Regions from separate parts of the Homo sapiens genome. Here region 2 is linked to region 1. Evidence: fine-mapped expression QTL. Tissue or cell type: whole blood. Region 1 holds a variant in brackets; the other region holds the start of a gene. All regions are shown on one strand. Distances are between the middles of the regions.

Region 1 (2,675 bases):
CTGGCCTCAGGCATCAGGGATGGTGGATGGAAACACCTGCTCACCTGCACCGCGGGTGGAGGTGTCAGGCAGTGAATACGTTGACCCGACCTGTCCCTCTCTCCAGAATAACTTCACCTGTGTTCTTGTACCAGTTAAATACCAAGACAGCAGTTGGTGGGATTTTATCATTTATTTTAGAAAGACAAAGCAGGTCATGAGATGGTGTTGGAGGAGAAGCATCTTGTGGTCTCAGCCAAGCCTGCGTCCAGGGGCAGGTGGCATGCAACGTATCCTTTAGCTGACGGGGTGGAGGTGGGAGAGGCTCACAGTGGAGCTGCCACTCACAGATGGGTCTGCACATCGTGTTTCAAAAGCCATACTTCGTGCATGAGCGAGATGGGTAAATGCAGGGGAGCGAGTTGCAGAAGCTGCTTCTCCCGGCATGGTCGCGCACAGAGGTGCTGCTGTGGCGGAAAGGGCAGAGACGTGCACACAGTTCCATTTGTATGAAATGTTTTCTAACTGACGGTGCGGCGAGGACATGATGGGGGGACAGTGGCTTTGGGTGTGGGTGTGTAGGTGTGTCCCCCATTCCTCTCGTGAGTGCACCCGGGAGGCCTGGCTGTGATGGTGAACAAACCTAGAAGGCCCACAGGCAGGGAGGAGGCCCATGCTCCGAGAGTGTCCATGCCAGGCGTGGCGTGGGGAAGTTGGCATCGCCACAGAAGAGACCAGGACGAGGCTGGGAAGGAAGAAGTGCGCTCGCACCGTGTGTCGCAGAGGGGCAGCCTCACACCACGGGGGTGGGAGTCGGAAGCAGGGGCTCGGGGAAGGCCTCCCCCAACTGCCTGTTGGGTTTCCTGCAGAAAGAGAGGGACGGGGCAGAGCAAATAGTTCGGGAGTGGCTGCTTCGGAAAGTTCTTGCAGGCTTTGTGCTGTAGGGACACTTTCTAGTTTCCTTTACCTGGCTCTGCGCTGGTTTCAGGCAGGGCTTGGCCTGGGCGTGAACTTGGGTAAGAAGGTGATTGGGTTGCATGGGAGCCCTTGGCTATCTAGGAATTTGCCAGCCCTGAGAGAGGGGCAGTCTCTCCCTGGCCAGAAACTTGTTAAGATGGCAAAATTTCCTAAAATAAAACATGATTAATAAATAAAAATAATATACAATTAATACAGTATGTGTCCTCGGATTTCCTGGGAAACCCAGGAGCTGGAGCCTGAGGCCCGAGGGGGCGTCTGCTTCCATGGGCGTGGAGTTGGGACCTCGGAGCTGCTGGGACTCGCTCAGAGACACCCCTTGCCTACCAAGTTAGGGAACTGGGTGTGCAAAAAGCACAGGCCTGGTGGGGACAGGAGCTCCTTCCCAGGTGGTGAGTGGGGCGTGAGGCTGGGGCTGTGGACATGACCTGCCAGACCTGAGGGCTGGGGTACTGCGCTGCGTGTTGTGACCTTGCCTGTAATGCGGGGAAGGGACTGCCTTGTGGTGCCTGACCGTTTTGGGTGTAGCCTGTACCAGGTGGGACCCAGGATCCAGGTGCTGCTGACTGCCACCCAGAACACAGCCACACCCTAGGCCATGCGTCCCTTTCTGCCACTAC[A/G]AAGTGCTTGACCCTTCTCTGTTCTCCTTCCTGCTCAAAGCTGCCATTCCTGTTGCTGGTGACCCCTTTATGGGAGGCGTATCCTGAGAAGTCCCTTCCTGGGCCTGGCCCGGGCCCCAGCCCTGATCAGAGCAGCTGCCTGCCTTGACTAGTTACTGAGTCTGTTGAGTGCGGTGTGAGAGTGGATGAGTTTTGAGCTGCCTCTGAATTCAGTGAATTGTGTGTCTTCTCTTTTGAAGCAGACGGTTGATGATGAAGCGCCGGCCGTGTAAATGAAGATCGGGTGAGGAGCAGGACGATGCCCAAGGGTGGGTGCCCTAAAGCACCACAGCAGGAAGAGCTTCCCCTCAGCAGCGACATGGTGGAGAAGCAGACTGGGAAAAAGGTAATGCTGCCCCCTCCCAGCCCTGCATGCTCACCGCACCCAGATGGGGATGAGGTGGGAATGGGGTGCTGCCCGCCTGTGGCCTGTTCTCCGCCCTCCGGCCCTTTCCTCGTGCCTCTGTCTGCAGCCAGGAGTGGAGAGGGTGGTGAGGAGTGATCTTTCCCAAAGTGGCCTTGCTTTTTTTGTATTTGTTATTTGGGGACCGAAGTCAAGCGTTAAATAATAGCTTTATGTACAGAAGTTGGCCTGAGCCTCAATGTGGCTGCACGTTTCTACCCCCAGAAGTCCAGGATTTCTGTCCTGGCTCCTGTTAGGCCTGTCAGGCATTCAGATATCCTGACTGCAAGCAATGCTGGGCCACGTTACTTCCAACTGTGGTTTATTCTAAATGTGAATAGGAAAATGGGATGCCAATCAAAACCACTGCATTTTATTAATGTGCGGTTAACGCTGATTCCTGGTGTGCAGACTTCCTGCCTTGCAGTGTGGGGGGTGATGCAGTTTCCTGGGGTGCAGACTTCCTGTCCTGCAGTATTGGCGGGTGCTGCTGGGTTCTGGGGTGTTAGGAAGTACAGACTTCCTGTCCTGCACTGTGAGGGGAGACGCCGAGTTCTGGGGTGTGCCCAGCGAATGTGAACTTGGACAGATCCAGGTTCAAGTTCAGGCTTTGCCATGTGTTATCTTTGTGACCGTCAACAAGTCAGGTGTCTCCT
Region 2 (2,675 bases), 190 kb before region 1:
GAGGCAGAGGCTTCAGGGAGCCATGATCAGGCCACTGCACTCCAGCCTGGGCGACACAGCGAGATTGTCACAAAAAAAAAAAAAAAAAAAAAAGAAGAAAACAAAACACAGAAGTACATTGGCTGCTATCCCATGGCCTGAAGCTTCTGCAGGAGAAAGGGAGCAGCCCAGCTCTCCAAAGGCCACAGTGGCTGCCCAGACACGGGGCTCCTGCTGTCACCAGAGAGTGGCTCCTTGTAGAACATTTCCAGGTACCAAACCAGTTAACAAGTATATACTTTCAGAGTTCTCCTTTCAAGATAAACATTTTCCCATTTAAATATGTTTTATGGCCGGGCGCGGTGGCTCACGCCCTGTAATCCCAGCACTTTGGGAGGCCGAGGCAGGCGGATCACAAGGTCAAGAGATGGAGACCATCCTGGCCAACATGGTGAAACCCCGTCTCTACTAAAAATACAAAAATTAGCTGGGTGTGGTGGCGCGCACCCGTAATCCCAGCTACTCAGGAGGCTGAGGCAGGAGAATCGCTTGAACCCGGGAGGCGGAGGTTGCAGTGAGCCAAGACCATTGCACTCCAGCCTGGGCGACAGAGCGAGATCTCTGTCTCAAAAATAACCGAAAAAACAACAACCTAAAAGGTGTGGGCTAAGCTCCTAGGCGAGGGCTAGGAGAAAAAAACATCAGCCCAAAAGCTGAAGGACACAAGGTCTGGTTTTCGGGAGGAGATGCTATCCTATCCTTAGCAGAACCTGAAACAAGGCCGCACTACAGGGGGTGCTCAATGACTGTATCAATAACGTGCCGAGCTACATGACAACAGCAAAATGCAGCTACAGGGTATTTTGCGGACACAGAAACGTTCTGGGCCCCCTACTCGGCAATAACCACCCTAACTGGAAGGCGCTGGAATTCCTGGTGACGGAATCGATCCACAGGCGTGGACTGTAAATTAGTGCTACGCCGGAAACCGTTACTGGATTCCACTTTAAAAGGCGAGGAAGACGGGCGGAGAACATCCACACACAACAGACGGGTTGGGAAAGTCCACGCCGAGGACTGCGCGGATCCCAGCCCTGCCTCTTCCCGGCCCGCCCAGCGCCCACGATCCAGGGCCCCAACAGTCGCTCCGCGCCGAGGTCCACAGCTGGGGGATCCGCGGGCCCACAGGCGCAGGCTCCCCCGCCGCAGGGGCCAGGCGGCCTCCGACCCGCCCCGCCGGGCTGGGCCTTACAGAGCAGAGCCGGGCGGGAGGTGGGGCCCGGACTCCGCGGGGATTTACCTGCAGAGCTCGGCCTCCAGCCTCGGCGAGGTCCCCCGGAGGCCTGCTGGCCATGTACGGCCGCCCCCTCCCGGGCCTGGCGGGGAACCCTGGACTCCAGGCCGGGCCTGGGCCCCACAGCGGCCGAGGACCCGGGCCTGGACCCCGGCGGAGGGCACGGAGCAGCAGCAGCAGCACGGCCATGTTGGCCTGAAAGCCGCGCCTGCGTGATCCGCGGGGCGCTACACGGCGCCTGCGCGGCGGGGTGGGCGGGGTCTGACGTGGCGCCTGCGCGGTCCCCACAGCTGCGCCCCGCCGCGCCCGGGTGCCGCTTGCCGCACCCCCGAGCCTGAGCCCGTCTACCTCGTGGCTGCCTGAGGCCCGGGTATGGGGGCGCGCGTCTGCGAGGAGGTCGCGGGTGCCCTGGTTTTTTTGAAGCCGGCCTTGTATTCCCAGGGCCTGGCGGGTGAATAACCGGCCGGGTCGTGGCTGCGTGGTCGTGCTCCGCCCGCGCCGAGGGGCCTCACGCCCGGGCAGCCTGCGTCACCCGCAGGGTTCGGTCACAGGCGAGGGCGGATGGTGCGGGCCGGAATCCCGCCTGCGAGTAGAGGCCCGCGCTCAGGAGGGCGGCGCCGGAGGCCTCGGGTCGGGAGGGCCCCTTCGGGTGTGAGGAGCGCAGGAAGGGGGCGGTTTTCCTGCGTCTTGAGCCGCCCGAGGACGAGGACTGAAGTTGCAGCCGCCGCAGGGAGGGCAGCCCCGGAGGAGGAGGGTCGTGAGGGAGGGAGCGCGCAGTGCGGCGCGGCCTGGCAGGCGTCTGCAGAGCTCGTCCCGCACACCTCTGACTTCGGAGCGCTCCGTCCTGTGCCTTCGGACTGGCTCACCTCGGAGGCGCTTCGAGCCTCGGTCCTGCCCCGGCCGCTGCGCGAGCCCATCGTAGGAAGCGGGGAGGCGCCGTCTGGAAGCTTAGGAAGAGGCTCTGTTCTCTTCAGGGTCCGCCCTCCGGGCCCGGGCAGGGTCCCTCGTGGGCTCCCAGGCGCGCGGGGTCCTCCGCCACCCCGACCCCTTCCTCCGTCCGCCTTAGGTCTAGAGCTGACGCCAAGAGCTGGAAAGCTTGTTGAGTAGGAAAAGCAAAGACTAGATGGTCTGTCACAGAGGTAGGATGAGGGTGACCTATTTATTTTTATGCTTTTCTGTACTCCGCAAATTCGTAACAGTGAATGCCAGTGACGACAGCCAACATCACCGAGTGCCTAGCTCCGTGTCGAACACCCATGTAATATTCACAACCCTGTGCAGCGAATACAATACCTCTATTTTACATGTAAAGAAAGATTCAGAAGTATTAAAAGTAACCTGCCTAGGATTACAGCTCTGAAGTTAGGGCAGAATTTCAAGGCCGGTCTGGTTTGTTTCTGGA

The links. PIP is the estimated chance that this variant, and not a neighbour inherited with it, causes the effect.
Region 2: SPG7 starts here. The variant in region 1 is fine-mapped to the expression of SPG7 in whole blood (TOPMed, PIP 0.99).

Annotation. Positions count from the first base shown.
Region 1 is chr16:89,316,220-89,318,894 of GRCh38, reverse strand. It overlaps ANKRD11 (ankyrin repeat domain containing 11), which reads left to right. Exons shown (of 13, transcript NM_013275.6): 3 at 1,817-1,962. The coding sequence starts at 1,876. It overlaps LOC128462377, which reads left to right. Exons shown (of 2, transcript NM_001416403.1): 2 at 1,820-1,849. The coding sequence ends at 1,849. Among named protein-coding and RNA genes, the nearest start is that of ZNF778, 100 kb to the right of the region's middle. RefSeq lists enhancers at 689-1,280, 1,281-1,872, 2,566-2,665, 2,465-2,675 and a silencer at 2,431-2,581. The variant A/G (reference allele first, on the strand shown) is at 1,578.
Region 2 is chr16:89,507,205-89,509,879 of GRCh38, reverse strand. It overlaps SPG7 (SPG7 matrix AAA peptidase subunit, paraplegin), which reads right to left and starts at 1,477. Exons shown (of 17, transcript NM_003119.4): 1 at 1,280-1,477. The coding sequence starts at 1,462. LOC101927863 (a long non-coding RNA gene) reads left to right here and starts at 1,560. Exons shown (of 5, transcript NR_188547.1): 1 at 1,560-1,643. RefSeq lists silencers at 984-1,103, 1,134-1,693, 1,764-1,973, 2,094-2,163.